Linked DNA regions of Homo sapiens: region 2 is linked to region 1. Evidence: fine-mapped expression QTL. A gene starts in region 1. The other region holds a variant in brackets. All regions are shown on one strand. Distances are from middle to middle.

Region 1 (15,468 bases):
TCTTAAAACAAGGATGAGCTACTACAATGCACACCATTTCTCCAACAGCTTTTCACTTCACCATATTTTGAGATGGATGGCCACGTCAACACTATCTCAGTCTTTAACAACTAGCCCCATGGTACTCCCCTGTATCAAAGAGCCATAATTTATTCATCCGATCCTCTAATGATAGACAATTGGAGTATCTCCAATTTTTGCTATTAAGAACAATGATGGAATGAACATCCTTGTACATAATATCTGTGTACCTGTGTGAGCAATTTTACAACCTATCTTTCTAGAAGTGGAATCACTATGTCAAAGTGGTCACAGACTTAAAATTTAAATAACATGTCCAACTTGCCCTTCTGGTGGACTTTCTGTGTCAAGTGCACTACATTCTCTCCTAGTGCACATCTGGAGACTATTGTCATTTGGTGCCTGCTGTAGAAAAGCCTCATGGCGTCACAGCTGGAAAGGGCCTCCGAGATCTTGTGGTCTTGCTTCCAGGGAAGGGTGGGGCCCAGCCCCCGATGCTGTCAGGGCCACGTGCAGCTCCCTGGGCTGGAGGTTGTGTAGAGCAGTGCTCACGAAGATACTGCCCATGTCTGAATCCCAGGCTTACCATTTACTGTTGTATGACCTTGAATACTTGCCTTGTCCGTGCCTCAGTTTTCTCATCTGTAAGCTGAGGATAATACTAATTCTGGGGTGGCAACTGGAAAGGGGTTAGGAGATTTTTCTTGAAGCTACATTAACAAAGTATATATTTATTTGGGGTGGCTTTCAGGGGATTGATGGATGATGGGGGGTGGGCACTAAGGACTCCCATCAGACACCACCAGCGCTGCCAGAGCTAATTTCAAATGATGACAGCTGGACTTAGTGAGATTCGACGTGACGAATGCCCAGCACACGGCACACAGCCTGGCACACTGTCAGTGCTCGATGGTTGTGAATTCTTGAATGCTGACAGGTGCTGTCTGGGACAGGGAGACCAACATTTCAGAGAGACTGTCCAGGAGAGGGAGGCCCGAGCAACAGGAAAAGAGGGGACCCAAGAAACAGCCTAATCCAGCCCGCCACTTACTACTTAAATAAAGTTTGATTGTAACACAGCTGCGCCCCTTCATTATGTAATGTCTATGGATGCTTGCACTTGACAATATCAAAGCTGAGTAGTTTCGACAGAGACCATATGGCCTGACAAGGCTAAAATATTTAGTATCTGGCCCTTTACAGAAAAAATCTGCCAACCCCTGGCATAGGGGTTATAGGCATACTAATACATGCTGATAGTTCTTGAGCTCACACCGTGTTTCAGGGACTGTTCTAAGCACGTCACATATATAAATTTCTTTAGTCCTCACAATACTCGTATGACATGGCTACTATTTATGGTAGCTAGTCTCAATGGTGGCCCCAGTGAACCACGTCTCCTGGGGCTGACGCCTCTGTGGGCCCCCCACCTCGAGTCTGGGACATCCTGTGCCGTGTGCTGACTAATGGCATGCGGTCGAGTGCCAGGCCTGGCATTAAGGAGGATGGGTACTTCTGCTTCTTTGCTCTGGGGAACACTGAGGTGCTGCACGCAGAGCAGAAGGGGAAGCCATGGGGAAAGGAGAGGCTCTGAGGCTGCAAGGAAAGGACGAAGGTCCAGCCAGCCCTGTCTCAGTCCAGCCTCCAGTGACCTCACCCAGCTACCATGCAGCCACACTTACAGCAAGCAAGACCAGCAGGACTGCCGGGCAGAGCCCAGTCCACTCTCAGAACCAGAGAGACAAGAAAATAGTGCTCAAGCCACTCTGCTTTGTGGGGTGGGGTGGTTCTGCAGCAATAGCTGGCTGAGACACACCACACCAGAGCCTTCGCCTTTCCACCCTCCTTTATCCAGTGGTTCCAACTCCTGTGTGGTTATGAGAATCCTCCAAGTAGCCTTTACAGACACCAATTAAATCAGAATATCTGGAAATGGACCAGAATAGGAATCCTTTTTTTTTTTTTTTTCTGAGACAGAGTCTAGCTCTGTCACTCAGGCTGTAGTAGCACTGTGGCACAATCTCGGCTTACTGCAACCTCTGTCTCCCAGGTTCAAGCCACCCTAGTAGCTGGGATTACTGGCCTGCACCATGATGCCTAGCTAATTTTTGTATTTTTAGTAGAGATGAGTTTTGCCATGTTGGCCAAGCTGGTCTCGAACTCCTGGCCTCAAGTGATCCACCTGCCTCGGCCTCCCAAAGTGCTGGGATTACAGGCCTGAGCCACCGCGCCCAGCCTCCAGAGTAGGAATTTTTTTAATCCTCCAGGATTTGAGAACCACAGCTCCACCCACTATTTCCAAAACTTGCCTAGCAGAAATATTTTAAAAACAGATTCTTCGGCTGGGCACAGTGACTCATATCTGTAATCCCAGCACTTTGGAAGGCTGAAGCAGGAGGATCTCTTGAGCCCAGGAGTTCGAGACCAGCCTGGGCAACATAGTGAGACCCTGTCTCTACAGGAAAATTAGCAAGCAAGGTGGCACACTCCTGTAGTCCCAGCTACTTGGGAAGCTGAGGTAGGAGGATCACTTGGGCCTGGGAGGTCAAAGCTGCAGTGAGCCCAGATCACACCACTGCACTCCTGGGCGACAGAGTAAGACCCTGTCTCAATAGCAATGACAAAATAGATTCGTGCACTCCAACAGATACACAATTCCATGGGAGGCCCTGGAAACCTGTAGCATTCACACATTCCTCCAGATGAATTTTATTATCAATGATTAGCAGAAAAAGGGCGAGATGAGAGCCCAGCTCTCAGGTGTGGAGAACTGCTTGGCAGTTTCCCATCAGGTTAAACATTCACTTCCCAAAACTTAGCCATCCCTAGTCTTGGGTATTCCCAATAGAAATAAGTGCTTGGCCGGGCGCGGTGGCTCATGCCTGTAATCCCAGCACTTTGGGAGGCCGAGGCAGGCAGATCACGAGGTCAGGAGATCGAGACCATCCTCACACAGTGAAACCCCGTCTCTACTAAAAAAATACAAAAAAAATTAGCCGGGCGTGATGGCGAGTGCCTGTAGTCCCAGCTACTCAGAAGGCTGAGGCAGGAGAATGGCCTGAACCCAGGAGGCGGAGCTTGCAGTGAGCCAAGATCGTGCCACTGCACTCCAGCCTGGGCGAAAGAGCGAGACTCCATCTCAAACAAAAAAAAAAAAAAAAAAGAAAGAAGTGCTTATGTCCACCAAAGACAAGCACGAAGATACTCGTAGCATTATTCATAATGGCCCCAAACTGGAAACATCCTGAATGTCTATCCACGGGAACATGGACAGATAAATTGTAGTATTTCCACACAAGGGACTACCAGGCAGCAATGAAAAAGAATGAAGTACTGATATATACAGTAGCCGTGTGGATTGAATTTCACAGGCATACTGTTGAATGAGAAGAGCCAGGCATAGCTCGCAGCGGATTCCACTCATCTATGGTGATGGAGATCAAAATAGTGGTTACCTCTGGGTATCTGTGTGTAAATTCTGCTCCCTAACAGGACACAGGGAAAACTTCCCAGGATGGCAGTCAGAGCCACAAATCAAGACTTACCTGCATTTGGGGCTCACCTGAGCGGCCTTTTCTTGCTTGCTTGCTTATTTGCTTTTTTGAGATAAACAATATACATTGAGGTGTACACAATGCAGTGAAAAAAGCATACAGCCCAGTGAATCTTTACATGTTTACACTGAGTATTGAACTTCATGCAAAGTGCTGTTCTAGGCCCCTGGAAAGGGAAGCCAAGGTTATGAGACACAGACTGTGTCGGTATGGATTTCATAATCTGGTGGAGGAGATATTACAATACAAGGTGGAACGATGACTTTTCATCCATTCACCCATGGGGTGTTTTTCTTGTTTGTTTTGTTTTTTGAGACAGAGTCTCACTCTGTCGCCCAGGCTGGAGTGCAGTGGCACGATCTCGGCTCACTGCAAGCTCCGCCTCCCGGGTTCATGCCATTATCCTGCCTCAGCCTCCCTAGTAGCTGGGACTACAGGCGCCTGCCACCAAGCCTGGCTAATTTTTTGTATATTTAGTAGAGACAGGGTTTCACTGTGTTAGCCAGGATGGTCTCGAACTCCTGATCTCATGATCCGCCCGCCTCGGCCTCCCAAAGTGCTGGGACTACAGGTGTGAGCCACTGCACCCCCATGGGGTGTTTTTGAGCCCCTGCTCTATGCCAGGCACTGAACTAGACAGGGGAAATGGAGTAGCAACCAAGACCCCACTCTACCGTGAGGGTTTTGGAGAGGAGCGCAACTAATTGATTCTACCTCCTAAACATTTTCCAAATTCATTCCCTTGCCTCCCACTGACCCTATCCTAGTCAGGCTGCTACCCTCTCTCCTCTGCAGCTCTCTCAGTCCTTGCCCCTGATTCATTCTCCAGATCAGCAGCCCTTACCTAAGTGCTCAGCCGAAAAAAATTCAAAATTGATGACTGCCCCTGGCCCAGGCAGCTCCGGTGCTGGCCTGTGTGGGCTCAAATCTTCACTTGTAGGATCTATAATTGTGACCACAGGCAAGTTCCTGATATGTCCTGAGCCTCGTGTGTGTCTTCTATAAAATGGAGATGAAATAGTATTAACAACAAAAACCATACCTGTCTCCCTGAAGAGGCTAGGCTTGCACCATCCACTACTCCTCCCAGTGCCTCTCAATGCTGGTCACTCCTGCCTCTCTGAACTACCCAGTGATAGAAAGCTGCTTCTGTTCATGAACACACCCTTTGGTTTCAAGGCCTGAGACTCTATAATTGGTGCCCCAGTTTGACGTGTCTTTCCCTTCACCTTCTCTGGCTGGGTCTTACTCAGCTCCAGACTCGGCCTAGGCATTGCCTCCTCCAGGAGCCTTCCCTGAAGCTGCCTACGGGGCTGGGTGCCCCTGTGTGGGCCCCCACAACACCCCGGATTGAACTTCTCTGTCTCCTGTTTCTGTTTGTCTCCACTTGCTTGAGTGTGGGCTCCTGCCGGGCAGGCTGCCTCTGAGTTGCTGAATGAAACTCTTCTTTGCGCCCCTACTGTGGACCCCTCCAGTCCAGTGCAGGTGCTGGATGTGCCTACTGACCTGAGCAGAACATGCTGAGCACTTTAAGGGAGGTGGCCTTGAGGAATGGGCAGGACATCAAGAAAGAAAATATATATATATATATATATATATATGTATGTATATATATATTTTTAAACAAGTTGTACATGCAGACAATACTAAATTCAGCAGAAACAAAAGGGATTGCAATGAAAATTAAAAGTAGGTCACCTCTCAACCACCCAGCTCCCCTCCCCAGTGGCCACCTCTTCTATCAGTTTCTGAGTATTCTCTGCAGGGCAGAATTGTCAGTCTTCCGTCCCTTTTTTATTTTGCAAAAATTTAAAGCAACAGAAAAGTTGCAAGAATAGTACAATAAGGCCGGGCGCGGTGGCTCACGCCTGTAATCCCAGCACTTTGGGAGGCCGAGGCGGGCGGATCACGAGGTCAGGAGATCGAGACCATCCCGGCTAAAACGGTGAAACCCCGTCTCTACTAAAAATACAAAAAATTAGCCGGGCGTAGTGGCGGGCGCCTGTAGTCCCAGCTACTCGGGAGGCTGAGGCAGGAGAATGGTGTGAACCCGGGAGGCGGAGCTTGCAGTGAGCCGAGATCCCGCCACTGCACTCCAGCCTGGGCGACAGAGCGAGACTCCGTCTCAAAAAAAAAAAAAAAAAAAAAAAAAAAAAAGAATAGTACAATAAACACCTTTTGCCTAGATTCACCAATTAACATTATGCTACTTAACAAGCATTATATCATTTAATGTTCACATTAATTAATTAATGCCAATTTTGTACATGAGGTCACTGAGGCACCAGGCAGGTTAAGGGACTTGCCCGAGGCCACAGAGCTCCTGCCTGGTGGAGCTGGGCTTTCCCCCTTAGGCTGCCAAAGGACTTTGATCTGCCTTCCCACAGCTCCCTTTTGAGGAAAAGCATTTTCTTACACTAAGTTGAAATCCACCTCCCTGGGATATTTACCAGATGATCCGTGGAAAAGTACACAGCTCTGGAAGCATTTGCTACTTCTCCTCCTAAAACCTCCTCCATTCCCTGAGCGACAGCTGCTGTGGCTGCCACTACCACATGCTCCAATGTCACCTCCTCCGTGAAGGCTGGGTTAGCTCACCCCCCTGTTTAAAGACTCACCATGACTCCCAGCTGCCAGTGGGATGACATGTGCACGCCTGGGCTTGGAATACAAGGCCTGGGTGATAGAGCCCTCTTCCAATCCCTCTTGCTCCTTCTTCCCCTATCTCCACTTCCAGCCACACTCAACCCTCTCACTGTCCACTTAAACTTCCCCTCCTCCTTGAAGCCACCCGAATTTTTCTAAAGAGCGCATTTCTCCCCTCTCTGGGCTCCTGCAACCTTCTGCCTGAGCCTTTGACAGCCTTTTCCAGGTTGTCTTTTGGCCAGGAGGCTGGACAATGGAGGACGGGAGTGACAGCTCGGCCCCTTCCTAGCAGAGTGATCCTACACAAATTACTCCAGGTGTCTGACCCTTCATTTCCTCAAGCACATCATGGGGGAAAGAATGCCTAGCTCAGCACCTGGCAGAGAGTCAGCCTTCGCTCATCTCCCCTAATGGAGCTGACAGCTCTTCAAGTCCGCTGACATCTTCTCTTAGTCATCCCTTGAAATACTACCCGCTGTTACTTCTCTGCTCCTCAGTCTCCTCCTATGTAAAATGGGGATGAGAAAGGAGAGGTTGCGAACCTTTAATGAGCGAGCCCTTGGAGTATCCAGCCCTTCCCGACGCTAACTGACTCCTACGAGGGGGCCTGGTACACAGTAGGTGCTAAACTAATCCTCTCCGAGCTGGGCTTGGGGAAGATGCCTCCGTTGGGTGTACAGCGTGGGCGCGGGAAGGCGAGCCTGGGAGCGAGGGGGTTGCAGAGAGGCAGCCTGAGGTCGGCTCCGCCTTCCCCCGCATCCCCCGCCCGGGCCCTGCAGCTGTCAGCCCGGCCGGCCTCGGCGCCAGTCCACCAAACCTGAACGTCCCATGCCGGCGCCCCCACCTTCCCGGCCTGCACAACTTACCTTGCGCTCGGCGGCCCTCGGTCCCGCCCCCGACTGCCATTGGCCCAGAGGTTCCTTTGTTAGCGAGAGCGCGCCAACCCCATTGGCCGGTGGGGCTGCCGATCGCGTCGGGCGCGGCCCCGCCCCGTACGCCCCGGCACCTCCCCGCGCCCGGCCGCCCGCCCGCCCGCCCGCCCGCCCGCCCCCGTAGTGCGTGAGGCGCTCCGGTCCCATTTGCAGCGGCCGCGGGGCGCCGAGGGCAGCTGCGGCGGCGCGGACGAGCCGGGACGGCGGCGACCGGAGCCTGAGAGGCGGGCCGCAGCGGGAAGCAGCGGGCCCGAGGCCGCGTCCATGGGCCCGCGGCGGCCGGGCGGCGGCGGTGCGGGCGGGAGCTGGGCGTCGCGCGCGCTGTGAGGCCCGGGCGGCTCAGGAGCCTCGGCGCGTGCAGCGAACCGCCCGCCGGGAAGGAGGCCGGGCCGGGCCTGCGGCGGGGCCGGCGAGGGATGCGGCGCGGCCGCGCTGAGCCCCTAGCCCGCCGGGAGCGCCAGGCCGGCCAGGCCTGCGCCGCCGCCGCCGCCGCCGTCGCCGCCGCGCCGACCATGTCGGCAGCCAAGGAGAACCCGTGCAGGAAATTCCAGGCCAACATCTTCAACAAGAGCAAGTGTCAGAACTGCTTCAAGCCCCGCGAGTCGCATCTGCTCAACGACGAGGACCTGACGCAGGTGAGCGACTGGGGCCGGCCCGGACACCTCCGTTCTGGGAGCCGCGGGTCGGCGGCCGGGGCGCCGCCAAGGGCTGCAGGGAAAATAAAAATGGAGCAGGGAAATGCGCGAGTCCTGGGGCATGGGGACGGGGACGGGAAGTGCATTGACAGAGCTGGGACAAAGGGAAAATCCTCGAGTATGCCGAAAAATAACATCCTTTCCCGTTCCCATTGCCCGGCTGTGTGATTCATGCTTTTTGGGTGACTCAAAAGTGCCTGGTTTCGCTTAGTAGGAACAAAGCGCTTAGGGATTGCATGCCGCTTGACGGGACCCCCCTGAGATTCTGGCTTGGGACTGGACTTGGATTTGTCCAGCCAGAGTGGCCCAGGGGTCGGATTGTTGGGGAGGACTGTGGGCTTCCGTCTAGTGGGACGCAGCCTGCCCCGATTCTGAATCATCGTCACTGTCAAGCACTGGAGAGAGGTGAAGGGGTGTCCAAATCTGGCGAGGAGGGTCTTGTTCTTGAACTTAGTTTGGCAGGCCGTAGTTTAGCGGGGAGCTGGGACCAGTTCCCTGGTCACTGGCCGAGGGGTGAGGAGACCTGTGGGTCCTCGGGAAAGTTGATTTCTGTCTCCCAGCCTTAACTGTCAAACAGGGCTTTGAACTAGTTATGACTCCCAAACGTGCATTAGAGTCATAGCCATTAAACACAGAGTTCTGGGGCCCCCGCCCTGGAGTGACTGGGGAGATGGGGAATTTGTATTGATGAAAGGCTCCAAGAGGCTTGGCTGCAGCCCCCATGGCCCTTGGGAACCCCTGCAGTGATTGCTGTTTGAACTCCTAGTGTTCCAGGATTCCGAGCCTTGTGTGCACCTCCTTGGGATGTGCCTCGGTACCCTCCCCACGGCCATCATCTCCATCCTCTTCAGAGCTTTCTCTCAGCCTCCTGAATGAAGCCAGGGGAAGTCCCTTCACATTCCAGTCCAGTGTGACCTAGTTGTAGCCACTCCTGTCGCAGAAGAACCCCTTAGACTGAAAACGAGTGAACGGGCCTGGTTGTTTTTAATGCCACTTCAGTGCACCCAGGGTTTGACTTGTTTACATGGCCGACTGGAGTAGGGTGGTGGGGCAGGGGTTACGGCCTGGGGCACGGGGCCTTTCTCTGAGGTCAGGTTTCCAACTGCCAGGAAAAGATTCCTTTCATCTAAACCCCAAAAGCTTAACGAAACACTCAAGGCTGCAAAGTCATAGATGGTTAAGATACCAAGGGTTTTAAGGACGGTCAGCTTGGGACGGATAGAACTCATTTACCTCGGAGGGTGTTTTGGAGTGTAAAGGAGAACTTGATTCCTTCTTCTCATCTGGATGCTTTTTTGGATGAAACAGTTTATGCGATGAGGAGTTGTTAGGAGACTTTGCTTCAGGTCTTGGCTGTCACTTCCAGCTGTGTGACCTTGAACAAATCCCTTTACTTCTGTATCTTTTAATTTCCTTATCTGTAAATTGGGAATCCTGGTCCCTGGCTTACCTCCTTCACTGAGCATTTGTGAAAAGCAAGAAATGATATTTTATGAAACTTTTTTCTCTTACAATTTAACAAACCAAAAAAACCTGCCACTTTAAGAAGTTTCTGGGCAAGGGTTGTTCTGAGAGAGGTTTGTAAGTTTCCTGGTTATTCTAAGCAACTGTCAAAATTGGTAAATTTACACCTCATAGGGGCTGTTTTCGAATTCTTAAGCTTAGATAAACTAGGATGGAATCTGCATGTTTGAGTCCAATCTGCTAAGATTTTTTTTAATCTGTTGATTATTAATTGGATTCACGGGGAGAGGCAAACTTAAAATACTGTACTCTCACTGTATTCAAAGTTGAATTGTGGGTTTTGAAACAGGCCTGAGACCTTCAGGGCACAACTGGAATGGTAGTTTCTGAAATAATGAGTGGGGTTATTTGTGCTGGGAGAGGTTAGCCCAGCATTCTACCTCCTGGGATCTTTCAGGAAGAAACTGCTCTTGAAAAGAGAGGAGGGAGACTCAGGGCTGTTGCCAACAGCCTTCTCTGCTGCTCTCTGCATCCGGCCCTCCCTCTCACTCTCATCCTTATGGCTCCATTAGAAAACCTCAACCAATCGGTTCCCATCAGTCTCCCCCAAGCCCCTGCTTCCTGCTGCCCCTCCCAGCCTGGAGCTTATTTTAGACCGTCAAAGCTGGAAGATACATCAGCCACCATCGAGGCCACTCCCTCCTTAAGAGGAGAGGATACTGGGCCCAGGGAGGTGGTGGGCAGCCTTGGCCGGCTTTTGCTCTGGAGATGTCATCTTCCCAGGAGCAGACATTTCTCTGAGCCTTTTGGTTTGAGGTTTATTTCCTCAGCTGTGGGTTTTGTTTGTTTGTTTTTCCCCTAGAGAGGCACAGAAACCTCTTGCAGGGACTGTATTATGGCATCAGACCTGGAAGGGACTTGGAGATCAGCTAATGTAACCACTTCCTCTTACCGGTGAGAAGATTGAAACCCAGAGAAGGGAAGTGACTTGCCCAGTTCAGGGATGGAGCCAGGATTCTGAAGCCAATGTTAGTTCCCCTACTCCTGTTCAGGGTCTACAGTGGCCACACCATGAGCACATGATGAGGACAATAATGTCAGGGATAGTTATGTTGCAGGAGGTGCCTTGAGAATGCTGGCTTGGAGCAGTGGAGTTCTTTGCCTTTTCCTCCTCACGGAAATTTGGAGTAATCTGGGATAAGTGATAAGTGACCGTCCTTTATTACTTGTTCCAGGCCCCTGTTCACAGAGTGTCATTTATCCTCCAGTTTTCCTGTGCATTTCTCAGCGACATACGGACCCAAATATACAGTTTTTTTTTTTTTTTTGAGGCGGAGTCTCGCTCTGTTGCCCAGGCTGGTGTGCAGTGGCGCGATCTGAGCTCACTGCAAGCTACGCCTCCCAGGTTCATGCCATTCTTCTGCCTCAGCCTCCCGAGTAGCTGGGACTACAGGCACCCGCCACCATGCCTGGCTAATTTTTTGTATTTTTAGTAGAGACGAGGTTTCACTGTGTTAGCCAGGATGGTCTTGATCTCCTGACCTCGTGATCCGCCTGCCTCGGCCTCCCAAAGTGCCGGGATTACAGGCGTGAGTCACTGTGCCCAGCTCAAATATACAGTTAAACCTTTTTATCCTGAACTGTGTGCATGTATTTGCTCTGCGACATATTTTTTGTTTTCTGCTTATCAGCATATCTTTACGTTCTTTTCATGGTGTTGCATATAAAGATGCCAGAACCATTTTGCATATTAGGCCTTTAGGAGTGTACTATAATTTAACCCGTTTCCTTATTGATAGACATCAAGGTTGCTTATGGGTTTTGCTGTTACATACAGTGAATGTTTCGGCAAAGAGTCTTATAAATACTTCTGGGTGTGTGTGCGTGCATGCATGAATGCAAGTATTTCTCTGGGGGCAGATACCTATAAATAGAATGGCTGGGTTGACATCAAGCGCATAAATTTTTTTTTTCAGATACCACGAAATTGCCTTCCAAAAAAGGCTGTGTGATAACATTTCCAGGACTGGATATTATCAAATGATTTAATTCTCTAATAATTTTCCTAATTACTCATGAAGTTGAGCCTTTTTTATAGTATTTACTGAGTATTTTTGTTTCTTTTGTGGATTGCCTGTTCGTATTGCTTGCCCATTTTTCTGTAAGGTTAGTTTTTCCCCCAGTTGATTTGTAGGAGCTTTCTATAAGTGCTTTAGGTCAGGGGTCTGCAAACTTTTTTGGTAAAAGGCCAAATAGTAAATATAATTTAGTGTCTGTGGGCTATATGGTCTCTGTCACAACTGTGCAGACTTTGCCGTCTCATCACAAAGGCAGCCGTAGACAACACATTAACGAATGAGTTCGAATGAGTTACTGTGTTCCAGTAAAACTTTATTTACCGGCAGGGCGCAGTGGCTCATGCCTGTAATCCCAGCACTTAGGGAGGCTGAGGTGGGTGGATGATCTGAGGTCAGGAGTTCAAGACCAGCCTGGCCAACATGGTGAAACTCTGTCTCTACTAAAAATACAAAAACTAGCTGGGTGTGGTGGCACATGCCTGTAATCCCAGCTACTCCTTGGGAGGCTGAGGCACGAGAATTGCTTGAACCCAGGAGGCAGAGGTTGCATTGAGCCAAGATCGTGCCACAGCACTGCAGCCTGGGCAACAAAGTGAGACTCCTTCTCAAAAAAGTAATAATAATAATAAATTTAAAAAACTTTATTTACAAAAACAGGCAGCTGGCATGATGTGTGGCCTGTGAGCCATAGTTTGCTGACCCTGAACTAGATATTAATCCGATGCTTGCCACGTATTGCAGGTATTTTTTCCCAGAATGCCACTTGTCTTTTTTGTGTGGTTATTTTTCTTTTTCATAATATAAATGCAGTTGGTCTTTTTTTTTAATAGTTTGTAGTTTTAATGTCATGTTTAAGGCCTACTTTCCAAGATTTGTAAAATAATTTCTCATATTCTTTTATAGCTATTTTTATACTTAGCTTTTTAATCTATCAGACTTGTTTTTTAGGAAAATAATTCTGGTTAAAGGCAGAAGATCTACTGGAGGCTATTAAACTGGGTAAATTACAATCAAGGCATTCTCTCCAGATCAGTGCTGGTGAGGATGGAAGGAATCAGACTCTAGGGACAGGATGTTGTTGGTTGATCAGAGGTGGGTGTTGAGGAACCTGGGGTAGTTAGAAGTACCTTTAACAGAGATTGAGAAGAACAGATTTGGAGTAAACTTGGGGGATGGGGAGGGGTAAAAAATAATATGGTAAGTTTGACCCTTATGGACGTAGAGGGAGGCTGGGTTGGAATTCTTAAGTCTTGGATGTGGAGGTGGTTGCTGAAATCATGGGAGTGAGTGTGAGCACTCAGGAGGCTGCATAGAGTGAAAGGAGAGGAACCAGCCTAGGAAGCCCCCATGTAGTGGGCAGGCAAAAGGGGAGCAGGTGCAGAGGCTGGGAGGTGAATCAGAGGGGTGGGCATTAGTGGGAGAAGCAGGTCTGGAACCCAGGGTGCTCAGCTTCTACATCCGCGTGTTGATCTGGGGGTGATGTCTCTTTCTCCTGCTGACTGTGTAACTTCAGGCATTGCCTCTGTGGAAGGAGCCTGCAAGCCTGTTTCTACTTCTTTGTCTAGCCCTGTTTTTTTGTGGGACCTTGGCTGGGTCATTTTCATTGCTCAGGCCTGTTTTCCCATCTGGAAATGAGCTCGGTCTTGATCTCTCCCAGGGTTCTTAGTCTTCCTGGTGTGATTCTGCCCTTGCTGTGCCCATACCCCACTGCCAAGGCTCCAAAGCTGCGGGGGCCTCAGGTGGGAATTTCAGACATAGAGGGTGTGGGCCAGGACGAGGTCTCAGGGAAGCATTTCATCAGGTTTCCCTTTGTTCCTGTAGACATTCGTAGAAGTTCTAAGGCATAGGACTTCCTGATTTGACTTAATGTGTATCTCAGAAACAACGGGGAGATTTCGCATCCCCCCCTTGTAGAAGATCTGTAACAGGAGTTGGTGTGTTGCTTGGCAGGGAGCGTGTCAAAAATCTCAGACACACAAAATCCCATTTCAGACGGCCAAGCACCATGACAAATGCTCAGCGTTGTCATCAGCGAAACCCAAATTGAAACCACAGTGAGATATCACTTCATACCTGTCAGGATGGCTAGAATTAAAAAAATAAGAATATAACATGTTGGCGAGGATGTGAAGAAGTTATAACTCTTGCACGTTGCTGGTGGGAATGAAATGGTGTAGCTGCTGTGGAAACAGTTTGGGGGTTTCTCAAAAAGTTCAGCATAAAACCTACCACGTGAGCCAGCATTCCCACTTCTAGGTATATGCCAAGAAGAATTGAGGACAGGTGTATTCAAACAGATACTTGTATACAAATGTTCATAACAGCACTACTCACAATAGCCAAACGGCAGCAACAATCCAAGTGTCCATCCACTAATGCGTAGATAAGCAAATCATAGTGTATCCATACCATGGAATATCATTCAGTTCTAAGAAGGAGCGAAGTACTGAGACATGCCACAACATGGACGAACCTAGAAAACATTGCGCTAAGAGGCAGACATGAAAGGTCATGTGTCACATACTGTGTGATTCCATTTATGTAAAATGTCCAAAACAGGTAAATCTGTAGAAACAGAAAGCAGATCGGTTGTTGCCAGAGCCTGAGGGTTGGGTGGGCAATGTGGAATGACTGCTAATGAGACTGGGGTTCTATTTTGGGGGTGATGAAATGTTTTGGAACTAGATAAAAGTGCTGGTTGCACAGCCTTGTGAAATGTACTAAATGCCCCTGAATTGTTCACTTCCAAATGCTTCTTGACTTATGATGGGACTTATGGTGGGGGTACATCCAGGTAAAACCCATCAGACCTATCACAAAGTCAAAATTATAAGTCAGGGACTGTCTGTACAAGAATCGCTCTCTCACACACACACACCTGCCTTCTGCTCCTTGTGTCACCTGGAGTGAATATCTGATTGTTTCTAGAGTCTAGACCAAGGCTTGGCAATTTTTTTTATAAAGGACTCTTCTTTTATCCTGGGGAACTCCTTCCCCAAGCCACTCTTTCCCACCTGAATGACACAGTTGGACCAGGTCGGTGGTTTTCAAGCTTTCATCAAATCCCGGAGCCTTTTACTCAAAAGAAATCTTGTATATTTTAGGTTTTGCAGGCCAACAGGCAAAATCGAGGAGGTTGTGTAGGATATAGCCACTTAAAAATGTAAAAGCCATTCTTGGTTTTGGGGTCTTAGAAAAGCAGCTGGTGGGCCAATTTGGCACAGGGGCACAGTGTGCCACCCCTCAGACCAGCCCTGTCCTCTAGAACTGTAATGGAAGCCACATAGGAAATTTTAAATTTTCCAGCGGCTACGTTAAAAAAGTAAAAAGAGGGGCCGGGTGCAGTGGCTCACGCCTGTAATTTCAGCACTTTGGGAGGCCGAGACGGGCGGATCACGAGGTCAGGAGATCAAGACCATCCTGGCTAACACAGTGAAACCCGTCTCTACTAAAAATACAATAAATTAGTCGGGGCCGGGCACAGTGGCTCACGCCTGCAATCCCAGCACTTTGGGAGGCCGAGGCGGGTGGATCACGAGGTCAGGAGATCGAGACCACGGTGAAACCCTGTCTCTACTAAAAATACAAAAAATTAATCGGGCGTGGTGGTGGGCGCCTGTAGTCCCAGCTACTCAGGAGGCTGAGGCAGGAGAATGGTGTGAACCCGGGAGGCGGAGCTTGCAGTGAGCTGAGATTGCGCCACTGCACTCCAGCCTGGGCAATAGAGTGAGACTCCGTCTCAAAAAAAAAAAAAAAAAAAAAGAGGTGAAATTAATTTTAATTATGTTTTATTTAACCAGATATATCCAAAATACTGTCATTACACCATGCAAAAAAGTTATGACGTGCGCATTTTACGTTACAGCACATTTCAGCTCAGACGAGCCACTTTCCCACTGCTTAGTAGCCTGGTGGTGTGGCCGCTGCCCGCAGTCCTGGTGGCAGCCCTGGGGTGCCACAGGTGGTGGTGAGTTTCCTCCGTCCCTCCCTTGGGCCTTGGGTTGGAAGGTTCCTGGAGTGCTGCTTCTCTGGGACTTGTTACTCCTGTTTGTGTCCCCACTCCTCCTTGGCCCTTGGT
Region 2 (15,468 bases), 32 kb before region 1:
AAGGCAAGGCTGCCTCTAGGACCACCTCCCTCTTGCCCCGCACCAGCCAGGCATCCTCTGGGCAGGGACCATGGCAACACGGCCCCCACCTGTGGCCGGGCCTTCTGGGTCCTCTCCAGGAGGTGTCTAGGCACCACGCTGTGGCATCAGCATCACACACAATGCTGAGATGAAAAGTCTTACGCAGGTGTCTTCGCACACCTGAGCAAACATTTCTACAGGAATAATTTCCCCCAGCGGGATTCTTGGATCAAAGGGAAGCACACATGATTATTCTAGAAGTTGACAGCCATTGTCCAATTGACACCCTCACCCACAGGGCTCTTTCCCCACATCCTTGGCAATACCAGGTCCTTGTTTTTAAATCTGTGCCGACCCGATGGGCAGAGAGTGGCACCTTGTCATGCTGTCTCCTGCCTGTTTGATCCAGGATTTTGTGGACCGTGGGTTTGGCAGCTGCTGGCACTTCTTCTGCACGTTCCCTTTTTGTGTCCTTTTCCAGATTGCTATTTCTTTGGGGCTTTTTTCTTAGTGATTTGTAGGGTGCTTTAAAATAAAATCTTCTGTCTGCCATGGTCTGTAGGTGACAAATATTTCTTCTCAGCTAATTGTTTTATTTTCAGCCATGTTGGTGGGGACTTTGTGATTGTTTTGTTTTTTGTGATTGGTCTTTGGAAGTTGCTCATGTTTGTGTAATCGGATTTGTCATTCTTTTCCTTTGTCATTTCAGAGTTTGTGTCAGGAATTCTTCCCTCTTCAACCCATTCCTCCACCTCCCTCCGCAGACTGGCCGGTGTTCTCTCTAGATCTGCCTCTCCCTCCATGCCATGCTCTCGGGCCCTTCGTGGTGAAGCCAGGTGGCCGTCCTCCTGCCCCTGCCCCTGAAGGAGAAAGCTCCAAGACCTGCTGTATTCATGTCCCCTTCCTGGAGGCCCACCTTCACGTGCCCACCTACCTCCTCAGCATGCCTGAGCCCCTATCGCTTTCCTCTCGCAGCAGCCTCAGGTGCAGAGCCCGGGGACTCTGGTCTGACACCGATGGCTTCTTAACTACAATCAGCACACCTGCTGCTCACCACCCTTGGCCAGGCCAAGCCACAGCCAGGCCCAGCCCTGGATTCGAGATTGTTATTTCTGCAAAATGGATCATCCAGGCATCTCTGGCTTGTCTCTGGCCCCCCCGCACCCCTCCACCACGCCCCTGGGCTGCTGCTGCTGATGTCTCCTTCCTGCCTACATCGGACCCAGTTCCCCCATGTTCATCCCTGGGGCTGGGCCACCTGCTGCTCCCCCTGGCTCATCCACTGCCCGTTACCAAGCCGCACACAGCTCATCGACCTACAGCCACACTTGTCACACCTCCTTGCAGACCACGAGTCCAGAGAAGCACGTGATGCAACCTCCCACACCTGACTCTTTTACAAACCAACAGGCCACTGGGAGGCTGCTCTCCTTGTCTCTGGGGTGGCAGCAGGGGAAGCAGGAGAATGAACAGCCTCCAAAACTTCTCCTCAGACGGAGCCGCCATGGAGGAACAAAGGGTCACCATCAACAAAGTCCATTTAGCCCAATCAGCCTCCTGCCCAGCAAACCAGGGAGGCATGCTCTGCCCTCAGCCCTCAGGTCCCAGGGGCCCGGCCCTGGCAGCCTCTTTGTTATTCCTGGCTCCCGGGACCAGGACTCTCAGGGTGCCCATGCCAGGGAGGCCTGCATGGCCGGGAGCAGGTATTTCCTTCTGTGCCCTCTGCGGGCTCAGGAAGACCCCACCCTGCAGGTGGCAGGAAGGGGCTGTGTTGAGCAAGGGGCCCAGCAGCTGGAGTGGGCCTGGGTCTAACTCTCCACTCCTGTTTGCATTGGCAAAGCACCGCAGCTGACACGGGCTGCGGGAGCACCACGCTCAGAGGAGCCGGCGACGGCTGTTTCCCAGCTGCTGTGCAATTTGCTGAGTTCAACACACATGTATTGACTGCCCACTGTGTTTTCTGTGCTCACTTGGAAATTCTGTTGAGCGCCTACTATGTGCTAGGCACTTGTCTGTGTGCTGGGGATATGGCCTGGGGCAAAGGTGTCAGTTCAGCTCCCCTGGGAAGTAGACAACAGGTTGGAGTTAGAGATACAAGAACTGTGTTAGGAGAAGGAGCTGTAAAGGAGAAAGGGGCGAGGGGCAGAGCAGTCAGGGAGAGCATGGAGCGCACCAAGCACAATGCTTGTGAAGGAGAGGGGCCACTGGAGAGCTGGGCGGGGGAGCCTCACCCGGCCCCAGGGGGTCTCTGGAGCAAAGATGGCCAGTACTGGGGTCCCAGGTTGGGCAGGATGATTTGAATGTGGCGGAAGATCCCCAAGTAGCTGGAGGCTGTCAGCTGACTGCACTTCTTGCAGAGGCTTCTCTCTTGAAGGCCGACCTGAGAAGAGCACCTCCATGGTGGCCACGGGAGATTAAATGCAGCTGCCATCCTGTGGAGGGGATGGACAACACACCAAGCAGCAACTGCACCCCCTTCTAGAACAGAGGCCCCAAATGACAGTGCTTCAAGAGAGGTGGGAGCTGGCTGTGCACAGTGGCTCATGCCTGTAATCCCAGAGCTATGGGAGGCCGAGGTGGGAGGCTCACTTGAGGCCAGGAGTTCAAGGCCTGCCTGGGCAACATAACGAGACCCCATTTCTACAAAAAATACCAAAAAAAAATTCAGCTGGACATGGTGGCATGTGGCTATAGTCCCAGCTACTCAGAAAGCTGAGGTGGGAGGATTGCTAGAGCCCAGGCTAGGCTGCAGTGAGCTATGATGGTGCCACTGTACTGCAGCCTGGGTGACAGAGTGAGACCCAGTCTCTTAAAAAAAAAAAAAAAATTATTAAGGGGAGGGCAAGCCCTTTTCCATACTTTCTTAACCCTGCTGTTTAGGATGTGGACATGATGGTGCACTGTCTTGAGCTACATGGACAAGAGAAACACCCTAGGGATGGGAGAGAGAAGGGTGGATCCCTGAATAACTGCATGGAGCAGAGTTGCCACCGCAGCCCTGAACTGCCCTGCCACCCCTAGACAGTGTGCTGGAGAAATGAACCTCTGTCTTGTTAAAGCCACTGTTGTTAGACGTAGCTAAACCTAGATCCTAAATACAAACATAGCATGTTCTTTTTTTTTTTTTTTTTTTTTCCTGAGGCGGAGTCTCACTCTTCGCCCAGGCTGGACTGCAATGGCACAATCTCGGCTCACTGCAACCTCCACCTCCCAGGTTGAAGCAATTCTCCCACCTCAGCCTCCCAAGTAGCTGGTATTACAGGCGTGCGCCACCACGCCTGGCTAATTTTTGTATTTTTAGTAGAGACGGGGTTTCACCACATTGGCCAGACTGCTCTCGAACTCCTGACCTCAAGTAATCCGCCTGTCTCAGCCTCCCAAAGTGCTGGGGTTCCAGCCACTGCACCCCTCCACACATAGCGTGTTCTTTTTGTCCACATAAAACTTACCATCTTGACCATCGTGAAATGCACAGTTCAGTGGCACTAAGCACAGTCTCATTGTTGTGCAACCATTACCATCGTCCATCTCAAGAACTTTTTCGCCGGGTGCGGTGGCTCACGCCTGTAATCTCAATGCTTTGGGAGGCCAAGGTGGGCAGATCACAAGGTCAGGAGATCGAGGCCATCCTGGCTAACACGGTGAAACCCCGTCTCTGCTAAAAATACAAAAAATTAGGCGGGCGTGGTGGCGGGCGCCTGTAGTCCCAGCTACTCAGACGCTGAGGCAGGAGAATGGCGTGAACCCAGGAGGCGGAGCTTGCAGTGAGCCGAGATAGGGCCACTGCACTCTAGCCTGGGCGACAGAGCGAGACTCCGTCTCTTAAAAAAAAAAAAAAAGAACTTTTTCATCTTCCTCAAATTGAAACTGTCTCCAATGAACAGTAAACAGTAACTCCCCATTCCCCTTCCCTTAGCTCGTATAAGTGGAATCATATAGAGTTTGTCTTTTCACGGAATATTACGCCCTCACGTTCTTCCATATTGTAGCATGTGCCAGAATTTCCTTCCTTTGTAAGACTGAATAATATTTCATTGTACGCACAGACCACATTTTTGTTTATCGATGGTCATTTGGGTGGCTTCCACCTTTTCGTTGTTGTAAAGAATGCTGCTATAGTGAGCTGAGATCACGCCACTGCGCTCCAGCCTAGGCAACAGAGTGAGACTCCGTCTCAAAAAAAAAAGAATGCTGCTATAAACATGGGTGAACAAACATCTGTTGGAGACCCTGATCTCAATTATTTTTGGGGTATTTTTTGGTATATACCCAAAAGCGGAATTACTAGATTATATGGTAATTCTGCACAGTGACTTTTCCACTAGTGTTTAACATGGTGTCTTGACAGAATAGCTGTAAGATTACACTGAAAAAGCAGCAGGGGAAGTGCTGTGAAGGCGGCCCATGAGCTTGTAGGAAAGGCGGTCAGCAGCACACCTCCACTGTAATGGGTTTGTTTACCCGCTAGCCTACCAACAGCTGCAGGCCCCTTTCCTGGCCCTGGCCCTGCCCCTGCCCCACATTGCTCCCCACATTAGACCCAGCTGTGCTGCACCTCTGCCCTTCTGCCCCGGCTCCTGCTTGTTACAGGGAAGGGCTGGAGGGCTCTTTGTCCAGGTTTGTCATCCAATATGAGCACTCAGTGCACACGGATGGCTTTACCTGGCACTCAGCCAGTGAACTCAGCATCTGCTCCGGCCCTTTAGCACTGAGCTAGGCTATCTACCTTCATAGGCCAATCACAGGTTGTCACAGGTAAATGACCACATGTGGTTTGTGCCTCACTTTCTGACTTTGGAACATAATCCCCTGGTAGGGGTGGGGGAGGGCCATTTTTCTGGAGCTTCCTCCTATTTTCAAGCTTTATCATGCAGAACAAAACCTTCTAAGCAGAAGCCTCAATGTCCTCTTTCTGTGGGTTGCATGTGTCCCCCAAAAGGCGTGTATTCAACACTTAATCCCCGGTGCAATGGTATTGGGAGCTGGGGCCTAATAGGAGGTGTTTAGGTTATAAGGTGCCCACCGTCACGCATGGGTTAATGCTGATTATAAAAGGCCTTGAGACTGTGAGTTTGGTCTCTTACCCTCCTGATTTCCACCATGGGATGAGGCAGCAAGAAGGCCCTCACCAAATGCTGGGCTCAGGCCAGCACCATGCCCTTGGGCTTCCCAGCCTCCAGAATTATGAGCCACATAAATGTCTGATTATTATAAATGACCCAGTCTCAGGTATTCTGTTATAGCAGCACGAAATGGACTCAGACATCTGTCTGCCAGCCCTGCCCTCCTGAGGGCTGGAATGCCGTTCGCTGCACTTCCCAGCCTCTCTACTTTGCCTCACACTGACTTCCCTCCCTGGAACCAGCAGTTCCTGCTTATTTGGGCGTTTTCAGATCTTACTGATCTTTCAAGGGCACCTCCTCTGTGAACTTACCTGGGTCCTTCCCAGCTTGGAGGGATCTCACAGCACATTCTGTAGCCAGTACCATGTTCTACCGTCTCTTCTAAAGCACAGTTCCTGGGCCAGAGCCCCAGCATGGCCTGCAGGCTGCAGGAAATGTGAATTCCAAGGCCCCCCTAGACCTCCTGATTCAGAAACTGGTGGTGGAGCCAACAATCTGTGTCTTATTGGCATAGATAGTTCTAGGTCTACCAGGCTGCCAGGAGGCCTCAATGGCTTGACAATCATGGGGCACGAAGCAACGCCCGCGAGTCAGCAGCAGGGGGTCCCAGCTGGTCTCCCCAAGGGTTCTTCTTCCCTCCTCTTCTTCTTAAAGTGTGGGAAAATTTACAGCAAAGTACACAAATGTTGGTGTGCAAATCAATGCCTTTTAACAAATGTGTCCACCCCGTCATCACACCCCAGATGAAGACATGGAACATTTCCAGGACCCCAGAAAGCTCCCTGGTGCCTCCTTCCCGTCAATAACCCCATCCTCCACCAGCCCCACCAAGAAACCACCACCAGGACTTCTGTCTCCATAGATGACTTTTGCCTGTTTTTTTTTTGTTTTTTTTTTTTGAGACGGAGTCTCGCTCTGTCACACAGGCTGGAGTGCCGTGGCACCATCTCGGCTCACTGCAAGCTCTGCCTCCCGGGTTCACGCCATTCTCCTGCCTCAGCGCGTGAGTAGCTGGGACTACAGGCGCCCGCCGCCCCGCCCGGCTAATTTTTTGTATATTTAGTAGAGAAGGGGTTTCACTGTGTTAGCCAGGATGGTCTCGATCTCCTGACCTCGTAATCCACCTGCCTCAGCCTCCCAAAGTGTTGGGACTACAGGCGTGAGCCACCGCACCCAACCTTGCCTGTTTTTGACCTCCATACTGTGCATGCTCTTTTGCGTCTGGATTCTTTTGTCTGACTTTATCTGCGAGATTCATCTAACTTGTTGCATGGAAGAGTCATTTGGTCTTTTCCTCTGCTATGCAATGCAGGAGAACATTTGTTTGTTTTTAGTTTATAGAATGCAGTAAGTTTTCTTTTGGTGGACATCAGCACTTGTTTCTCTTGGGTGTCTGACCCTTTCCCATGCTTTCCAACCCTAGCTTCTAAGCTCTCTGAGGGTACAGAGTTTGCCTCTGTCTATCCTGGCCTGACACGCAGTCTCCTCCTGTCAGCATTTACTCAGTCCAAATTGCAACAGGGGCAGGTCCCTGCCAGCTGAGGGAGCTATTCTTCCAGCTCAGCAGGGGGTTGGCCAGTCTTGTCCTCTGGGACAAAGCCCAGCCAGAGTTCTGGGCACTGTGGTTCAGAAGGCCTGAGACACGTGGTTTTACCAGGGCTGGGTACCAAGAACCATGCTTGAGGCTGACGGCATTTCATTGGCAGCGTCTGTGGGGGGCTTGGGGACTCAGCCGTGGGAAGCCTGTTCTGCACACAGCCATGGCGCAAGAAATGCTTTTTCCTGCGACGGTTCAGTGAGAACCATGATGGCAGTGGTGCAGCATCCTCCCAGCTTGGTTTTTAAACATGGGAAGGGCTTCTAAAAAGTCACACAGCTGGTTAATGTTTGAACCAGGGTGGCACAGGTTTGTGCGAAGCAGTGAGTGGAGCTGTCTGAATGCCAGGAGGAGGGTCACCCTGGAGGCGGGTGACACAGGGGTCAGTGCAGGTCAGAGGCAGAGGCTGGGCCCAGATGCCATGCGAGCTCCAGGCCACTTTCCCAGAGAAGTGAGCGGCGGCCAGGCTGCCGGAGGCTGTGTGGCCTCTTCAGGCCCTCACTGGTCCTGATTTTGAGGGGTGACTCATGCCGGCTTGGACATCCACTTCTGGCTCAAGTTGCTCTGGGTTCCTCCACACAGACCAGAGGGATTCCTGCGTCACAGGAATCCAGGAAGGGGTGGGGGGAGTTGCAGGTTGAGAAGACAGAGGTGAGTGGCCCCCGGGCCCCTCCCCTGTTGAGTCACGGGAAGGGAATGGAAATAGTGTGTGCTGAAGCTGAGTCAGGGCCCAGCCTCACCTTCTCGGGACCTCATATGGGCTCTGAGGCGAGAGGCCCACCTGTCCCCCCCTCCTTGCTGCCTCCTCTCCCAAGCATGAGGAGGGCGAGCAGGAAGGATTTAGGTTAGCTCTCAAGAAGGACTTCCTGAATCGCGCCAGGCGACACTGAGAGGCATCTCTCAAAGGAAGTTGTGAAATCTTCCTTGGGACCAATTTGAGGTTTGGTCTGGGTCCAACCAGGACTATCTTTATGGCTCTAGAATATTTTCAAGTGTTAGACATTCCTTCCTCGACATGACTCAGGGAGCATCCGATGTGTGCCAGGCCTGGTGGCAGGAGCAGGGCCAGCTGAGTGTGGGACATGCCCCACTCTGGGGGTCTTCTCTAGGTCAGCATTACAGCAGCCTTGGAGAAGACGGCTCCCACCCCTTCCGTCCTCCCCTCTCCTGGCTCCCTTGGGCAGCCTGCTCTGCCAGCCACACCACACTCCACTTTCGGATTCCGGAAGGAAACTATGGGTAATAAATAGGACAAAGGGTCAATTTCCTTCCTGTGCAAATCCCAGTAGCATTTGCAGAGTGCCAAGCATGGGAGGGCGCCCTCCTAAGTGCTTTACCTGCCTTCACTCCACCACAGCCCTGTGAGGAAGGTGCTCCCCTTTCACAGAGAAGGAAACTGAGGCTCAGTGAGGTGAGCAGCCTGGCTACAGTGGCACTGCCAGTGAGCAGCTGACCCAGCCTGTGACCTGGGCTGTGGCACAGCAAACAGCCAGCAAGCACTGGGTGCTTTTCCTGTGCTGGGCCAGCACTTTGCAGGCATCGACTCAATTGAACCCTCACAACCACCACACATTGGTAAGAAAACCACCCTGACAGTCCTGGGAAAATGCACAGTCTTAGTGCTCTGAAGGAAACAAAAAAGGACACATCAGTCATCAAAGAAAACAGAGAGATCCATCTGGAGTGCCTTGAATTGGCAAATGGTTTAATTTTCCTGTATAGGGACGCTGGCCTTGCTGGGGCACCATGGAGCGGGGCCCCGTGCTGGTGGGTTGTTCACTGGGACCACCCTTCTGGAATGTGGGAAGGCGGCATGGCAGGACCCACCGAATGCCTTCAAAAGCCAGTGGTCCATGCCCCTGTCTCCTTCCTTAGAGTCTTCCAGAAAAGACTGGTCAGAGGTGCAGCACAGATAAACCTACAAAGCTTTTCATCAAAGCATCACTTACAATGGTGAAAAGGCAGAAGAATCACTGAATTCCACCAAGGTGGAGCAGCCGAGGAAATCGTGGGTAGAACACTAGGGAGTCACAAGAAACAACATATTTGAGGGGACATTTATAGCAGAGGAAAATGCTCATGATCTAATGCTACACAAAAAGGGCAGGATACAAAATAAGGTGTATTGGAAGAAAGAGGGTGGCATGGTTGTCCATCCACTGCTTTCAGGGACTGGACTAAGTGACCTGGATCAGAGGGAGGGCAAGAGATCTGCTTCCTGCCTGAGCCCTGTGAACAGTTGAAATCACTCGTGTGTCTGCAGGAATCATTCTTATATTTGCTATTCTGTGGTAACTTCAAACCTACACAAAATTTGCGAGAATAAAAAACACCCTGCCACATACTCTTCACCTACATTCACCCATTGTTAACATTTTGTAGTATTTATTTTCTCTCTCATTCTTTTTTTTTTTTTTGACAGAGTCTCACTCTGTTGCCCAGGCTGGAGTGCAGCGGTGCGATCTCAGCTCACAGCAACTTCCATCTCCTGGATGCAAATGATTCTCCTGCCTCAGCCTCCCAGGTAACTGGGACTGCAGGTGTGGACCACCATGCCTGGCTTATTTACTTGTATTTTAGTAGAGACAGGGTCTCACTGTGTTGGCCAGGTTGGTCTCAAACTCCTGATCTCAAATGATCTGCCCACCTCAGCCTCCCAAAGTGCTGGGATTACAGGTGTGAGCCACCACGCCAGCCTGTTTTTCACATTTCTATTTCATGCTCCAGAATTCAGGAGCTCTAAGAGGAGGCTGCCTGGGCGACCTGCCTGTGGTAAGGGTGGACAGGCTGCCTCCCGGCTGCTCTGAGGATGGCCCTGGGTCTGAGGGAGGGCATTGCACTCTGGCGTGTTTGGGACTGGGCTTTGGAGATGTAAACATGGAGCGTCCCTCAGGAACCCAGGGCAGGCGCCCCTGGGAAGAGGAATGGCTCCTTCTTTCCTCCCTCAGTCCCTTTCCTGAATGCCTATGTCACTTCTGGGCACACAGGGGCTCAGCTTGCAGGGAGCCACTCTCCAGGTGAGGCTAAGGTTTGGGGGCTCTCTCTGTGCTCCATCTGCTCCAGCACTCTCTCCTCAGATGGGCCTCCTCTGTTCTCTGCTTTGCTCTCCCTGCAAGGAGTCCAATCCTCGAAGGTGGGAGAGTCCAGAGAAGAAAAGAGCCAAATGGAGGAAGAGGACCCTGGGAACCCTTGGGTGCCGCAGAGCTTGGGAGGTGACGCGTCTGGCCCAACTCTGCTCCTCTCTGCCGGTTCCCAAAGCCAGAAGTAGG[C/A]AGCTCCCTTATCCTGTCTTTTCAGAGGAAGTGTTGAGTCCAACAGGATGGGGTTCAAATCCCAGCTTCACCACTGATTCTGGACAAGTTTATTCTCCTTTCTTAGCCTCTGTTTCCTCATCTGGAAAGTGGGGCTGTCTGAGACTAAACCTGAGAAGGCACAGGAAGGGCTTCCCGTGGCTTCTGCAAAGAGCTCCACGAACACTCGCTCTCCTTCATCCGAGCAGCAATCCTCGCTGGGCCTCAGGTGCAGGGGGTAGCGGGGAACAAAACACCATCCTTGTGCTTTTACAGCTTACAATCCAGTGATTCTCATCATCAGTACATGTGGCCAAAGGCCCCTGGCTGACTTGTAGGCTGTGGGGTTGAATATGAGCCTCTGGGTGGTGTGGAAAATCCGGGAAACAGGTGGAAAGGGCAGCTATTCAAACCCTGCGAGGGTGCCGGGGCCATCAGGTTACACGTGGCAGCGCAGGTGAACTCAGGTCTTCTCACCTGGGGCTTGTCAGGTACTAGGGACAGCAGGCACCCAGATTCCTCTAAGGAGCCACAGGGCTGGCCAGGCCTCGAGAAGAACAGTGTCAAAGTTCAGGGGACCCTTTCTTTCACCCCTTCAGGAGCTGATGTCCCTGCAGGGCCCCCACAAAGCACAGCCGAGTTTCTCCCACTTTCTCTGCATCTCTTTCTGCCTTCAGCTTCCTCTGTGGTGGCCTTTGTTTTTCCTGCCCATCTTTGGTGGCTCTCAAATGTCATCCCTGCTCCACAGAGAAAAGGGTGCTGAGTGGCCAACCATCCAGCATGAGGGTCCCCTGCAGCAGCTCGCTCAGGCCAGGGCCCTCCCAGGATGCTAGTCCTGTGAACGGATGGAGTCTCCTGCCTGCTTGGTCACCGTGACCCCGGTGGGGAGAGACAGTCAAGGAGCACAGGCAGGATTTGTGCAAAAGATCTGGCCCGTGGCTCCTTTCTCAGTAGGGGCTGTGGGCTTCCAACCTTCCCAAGATTCCCCATGCAGAGCCAGGGCCTAAGCCACGGACCCCTTGGTCATCCAGGCCCCTCCAAGGCCCTGGGCCCACCAAGACCTCTAGCCTTGAAGCACATGGTCCCCAGCTTATGTAAAACTTGGCATGAGTGAGAAACTCAGCCTCAGTGGGTGAAGACTGCTGCCTCTTTCTGGCCTTTCCTCCAGCACACTTCGGGGAGGTGAGGGGGCTCCAGCTTGATCATCAGGGGGTGCTCAGGCACCTCCTTGCATAGGAAAGTTGTTTCTCACCACCCCAGCATGGGCTTGGCTTCCGGAAGCCCTTCCTCCTCCTAGGCTGACTCACCTGCTTGGCGCCAGGACATGGGAGATTCAGAGCCAGGGGTGGGGTCCTGCGGTTGTGGGCTGCGCGTAGATGGTGAAGGAGAATCAGAGTTGAAATGCATAGAGGCTCTCTAGGACACGGTGCAAATGTACTGGCAATCCACCCACCGATTCCAACACCTGACCAAGATCCCCGGATGCAGAGCAGGCAGGCTTTGCCTGTAGCCATGGAGAAACCAAAACCAGTGGGAGGTTCCCTTCCCATCTCTGCAAACGTGCTGTTCCCAGGAGCTCTGTCTACCTTGAATGCCCCATTTCTAGCTCTAGGATTTGCATCTGAGAGTGGGATGTGTGTTTATGAAGGGAAGACCACAGAAAATAATCTTTTGGGAAAATAAATGAGCGTTCTTCCATGCTTGGCCTGCTTTGACAATGCAGATTTTCCTTTTACTTGGAGCTTACCTTCTCTAGGCTATTTTCAATATTTTCAGTGGATGTGAGTTTGTTCTTGGAGCCAGACTACCTGGCTTCAAAGCTGCTTGCCACTTCCTACCTGGGACCTAAGGCGAGCCGTGTAGCTCTAGGTCCCTCACCTGTGAAACGGGAAGAACCACGGTGCCCACATTGCATCATACACTTGCATATGCAGGCACATCCTACCTGCAAAAAAGCAAGGAGCAGGGTAAGGGGGCAGCTATCTTGATCATGTTCCCCAGAAGCAGACCCTGATTTGTTATGGCAGTGACTGATGAAGGACGGCACCCAAGGAGAGCAGTAAGGGAACGGGGGTAGCAGACAGAGAGGGGAAAAGCCATGCAAGTCTGTGGCCCCAGGCAAAATCCTACAGAAGCAGGTCCCTCGGGGGACTGTGGAGTGGAGTCACATCTCTGTTTCCCAGCCTGAGCTAAGGATACACATGTCAGTCATTAGTGAAGGGCCATCCTGCGGCAGGGGGACACTTCCAGCTCTCTGCAGAAAGGACTAAGAGGCTCCAATAGCCTGATGACAGTCTCGCTGCAAAGAGTCATAGGTGTGGACAGTTGGAAACCAAGGCCATTCAGGCCAGGAAGGGGGTGCATGTGAAGGTGCGAGGGGTCACGCTTCTGTGACCTGCTGGTGGAGAGTGGACAGTAGCCACACAAGACAAAAGTGAGCGTTCTGAATTCAGAGACCAGAAATGGAGGCTTTCACAAATATGCATGCACCATGCTTTTTCATGGGATAGTCTATCTGGAAGATCATTCCAGGCTGCAGTATGTAAAGCTACCTCATTCTTCTTTTTCACAGTTGCAGAGTTCACTGAGTGGCTACGTTATTATGGAGCTCACCAACCTCTATTGATGGGTATTTAGATTGTTTCCAATCTTGCTATTACAAGAAAAACATGCCACAATAAATATCCTTGTACTAGGGCCATCAGCACATTTGCAAGTGTCCCTGTACATTTCTAGGAGTAAGTTTTCAGATCAAAAGGCATGTGCATTAAAAAAAATGTTGATAGTGGCCTTACCAGTTTATACTCCCACCAGTAATGTGTGAGAGAGCTTGTCTCCCACACCCACGGTGACACAGTGTTATCACAGTTTTGGATGATTGCCAATCTGATAGTTGAAAAATAGTCTTGAACTCTAGTTTCCATTTGCACTTCTCTGATTATAAATAAGGCTAAACATTGTTTATAAGCTCCAGGACCATTTCTACTTCCTGTTCTGTGAACTATCTGTTCATGTCCATACTTGTGGAAGTTTTTTCTATTGAAGTTTTATTTGTCTTATTGATTGTTAGGAGCTCTTTATATATTAAGGAAATTTGGATCTTGAGTAGAGTGACTTGAGGATGAAAGCAGAGAGAATTCATTCATCCAAGGGCTTCCCGTTCGGCTACCTAAAACTCATATCCAAACCAGTCCTTTCCAGGATGTGGTTTTTTACTTCTTCTTTTGGTTTTGTGAGCTAACCTATAACCTCCCAGCACATTCCTTGCTTGCTTTGCCTTGGCTAGACTTAGCCAGAGCTGATTTCAATGGTGTGAGGAGTCTTGATGTATCCACTCTCCCTTACCAGGTTGAGTCTGAGGGTCTGAGTTGATGTCGTCCCCATCTTCCAGCTGAGATTCCCTGCTTTTCTCTGTGGGTCCCTCAACTTCCAGGTCCAGGCAACTAGTGACCCTTCCTAGCCAGCTCGCTCAGGGGCGTTTGCAGCCTCCTCCGCCCTGTCCTCATGTCTAGGCCAGAGGTCCTGTTTTCTTCACTTGGAAGGTGATGTCGCTGATTGATTTAAGAGCTTGTTTGGGCTCTCAGCTCTGGGAGTGTAGGTAGTGGGTCTCCCTTGATAATTGTGTCCCAGAGCTTCAAAGGCCAGGGCCAGCAGGGCCCTTGGGGATTTTGGGGACCAATCACCACAGTGGACAGAGGAGATGCGGTGCAGAGGGGGAGCTGTCCCAGGTCACACACTGTGTTGGGGGACACATGTGGGTCCAGGAGACCCTTTCTGAATCACTGTTGAGGGTTCGTTCTTTCTCTTGGCAAGCACTCCTCAATGGCTGGATTCCCCAGCTTACAGGCAGGGCTGTGCCATAGTGAGCACCAACTCCACATGCAAAGGCAACCATAGCTGCCCTGTAGGCCAAGGACAGAGGAGCCTGTTTGGGGAAGTGGGGAGGTGGCTTGGAGAAGATGGCCTGGAAAGACTAGCTTGGGTTGGGGCATGGCAAGTGCAAAGGCCCTGAGGCAGGTGAGAATGAGCATTTTGAGCATGGAGGCCACAGGGAGAGGGTCCCACGGGCAGGGGTGTCGATCAGAGAGACCATCCTCCAACCAAGACCATGTAACCAAGACCTGGCAGAAATGGAAACAATGGGCAAAGAGCCTTCTAGGCAGGGGAAGTGGCCCAGGGAAGGCCGTGCAGTTGGAAGGAGCCGAAGCGCTGCAATAAAGTGTGGCTCCAGACTGGCTGGGACAGAGAGAGTGAGCCAAAGCAGTCAGGCAGGATGGCTTGGACACAGGTGGGATCCTGCTCGTTGGTCTGACAGGCTTTTATTCTGAGTGTACCTGGGAACACTGTGGTGGCCATGGTGTTTCTAGCAGGCAGGCCGTGGCACTGGGTGAGAGATGTGACTATGTGGGAGTGAGCACTCCTTCCATGGCCATGAAAAGGGCCTTAGAGATTGTGGCAGAAGCTTTCCCAGTACCCACACCCCAGGCCCGGCCACAAGGATATGGGCCGTGCTTCTGGCTGCCTGGGGCTTTCTCTGCGACACATTGCACCCCACGGGGAACCGCAGAACCAGCTCCATCACCATCAACCCAGAACTGCTGGCAGCCAATGCCCGTGAGAGTTGGGTTCAACACCCCAGCTGGCTGGCCGGGCTGGGGAGCCTCTGAGGTATGTTCTGCTCCCCCAGGGAGGGAGCTCCATGTGCCCACAGCGCTCCCTGTCACCCCCTCCACCCCGCCAGGAAGGGATCCTCCCCCAGGGATGGAGGTTCAGGTGCCCAGAGTGCTCCCTGGCACAGCCTGCCTCGGCTCTTTCTCTTGCCTGCCTCACTTCCTGCCTCATTTCCTGACTCAGCAACTGGTGTTTTCTGGACCCCTCCACATACGCTCAGATCCTCCTCTCAGGTCGGGGGAGCCCACCATAGCCAGGGCTCTTCCCAGAGACATACATGTATCCCCACTCTCAGGCCCTAGCCACTCGATGTCACCTGATGTTCCTGAACTATGACTCCCACAAAAGGTTGGGATCCATCCTTCCTGCTCACCGCTGAACCCCCAACTCCAGGCAGAGCCCCTGTGCATCGCAGACTCCTGGTAGGTGTTGTTGGAGGATGGTGAGGTGGGCCCTGAAGGCCAGGGAGGCTGAGGAAGAGTCCCCAGGCCAGGGAGAGAGAGGCTCAGCCAGACCTCCTGGGCCAGGAGCCCTCAGACCTCCCGCAGGTGAGGGACACGCTGTTCTGAACAGAGGCTGAGTGAGTTCTGTCCACAGCAATCCTGTCGAACCTGTCTGGCCGGGTACAGAGCTTCAGGGCCCATATCCACGCTCAGGGGCAGGTGTCCTCAGGCGAGGACCATCAGGCAGCTTTCCCCCTCCAGGGCCCCTCCCTAGACAGGGCTCACACCAGACTTGCCCAGGGCCACAGCCCAGGACAGAGTGTTTG

The links. PIP is the estimated chance that this variant, and not a neighbour inherited with it, causes the effect.
Region 2: its variant is the best candidate, but not a certain one, in a credible set for the expression of MPRIP in monocytes after R848 (Quach 2016, PIP 0.60).

What each region holds. Positions count from the first base shown.
Region 1 is chr17:17,035,184-17,050,651 of GRCh38, forward strand. MPRIP (myosin phosphatase Rho interacting protein) reads left to right here and starts at 7,274. Exons shown (of 24, transcript NM_001364716.4): 1 at 7,274-7,788. The coding sequence starts at 7,666. LOC124903938 (a long non-coding RNA gene) reads right to left here and starts at 7,142. Exons shown (of 3, transcript XR_007065644.1): 1 at 7,088-7,142; 2 at 6,598-6,725; 3 at 4,160-4,574. RefSeq lists enhancers at 1,417-1,476, 7,961-9,160 and silencers at 6,839-7,298, 8,972-9,266.
Region 2 is chr17:17,003,496-17,018,963 of GRCh38, forward strand. No RefSeq gene overlaps it. Among named protein-coding and RNA genes, the nearest start is that of LINC02090, 23 kb to the left of the region's middle. RefSeq lists enhancers at 1,239-1,767, 7,593-8,585. The variant C/A (reference allele first, on the strand shown) is at 10,011.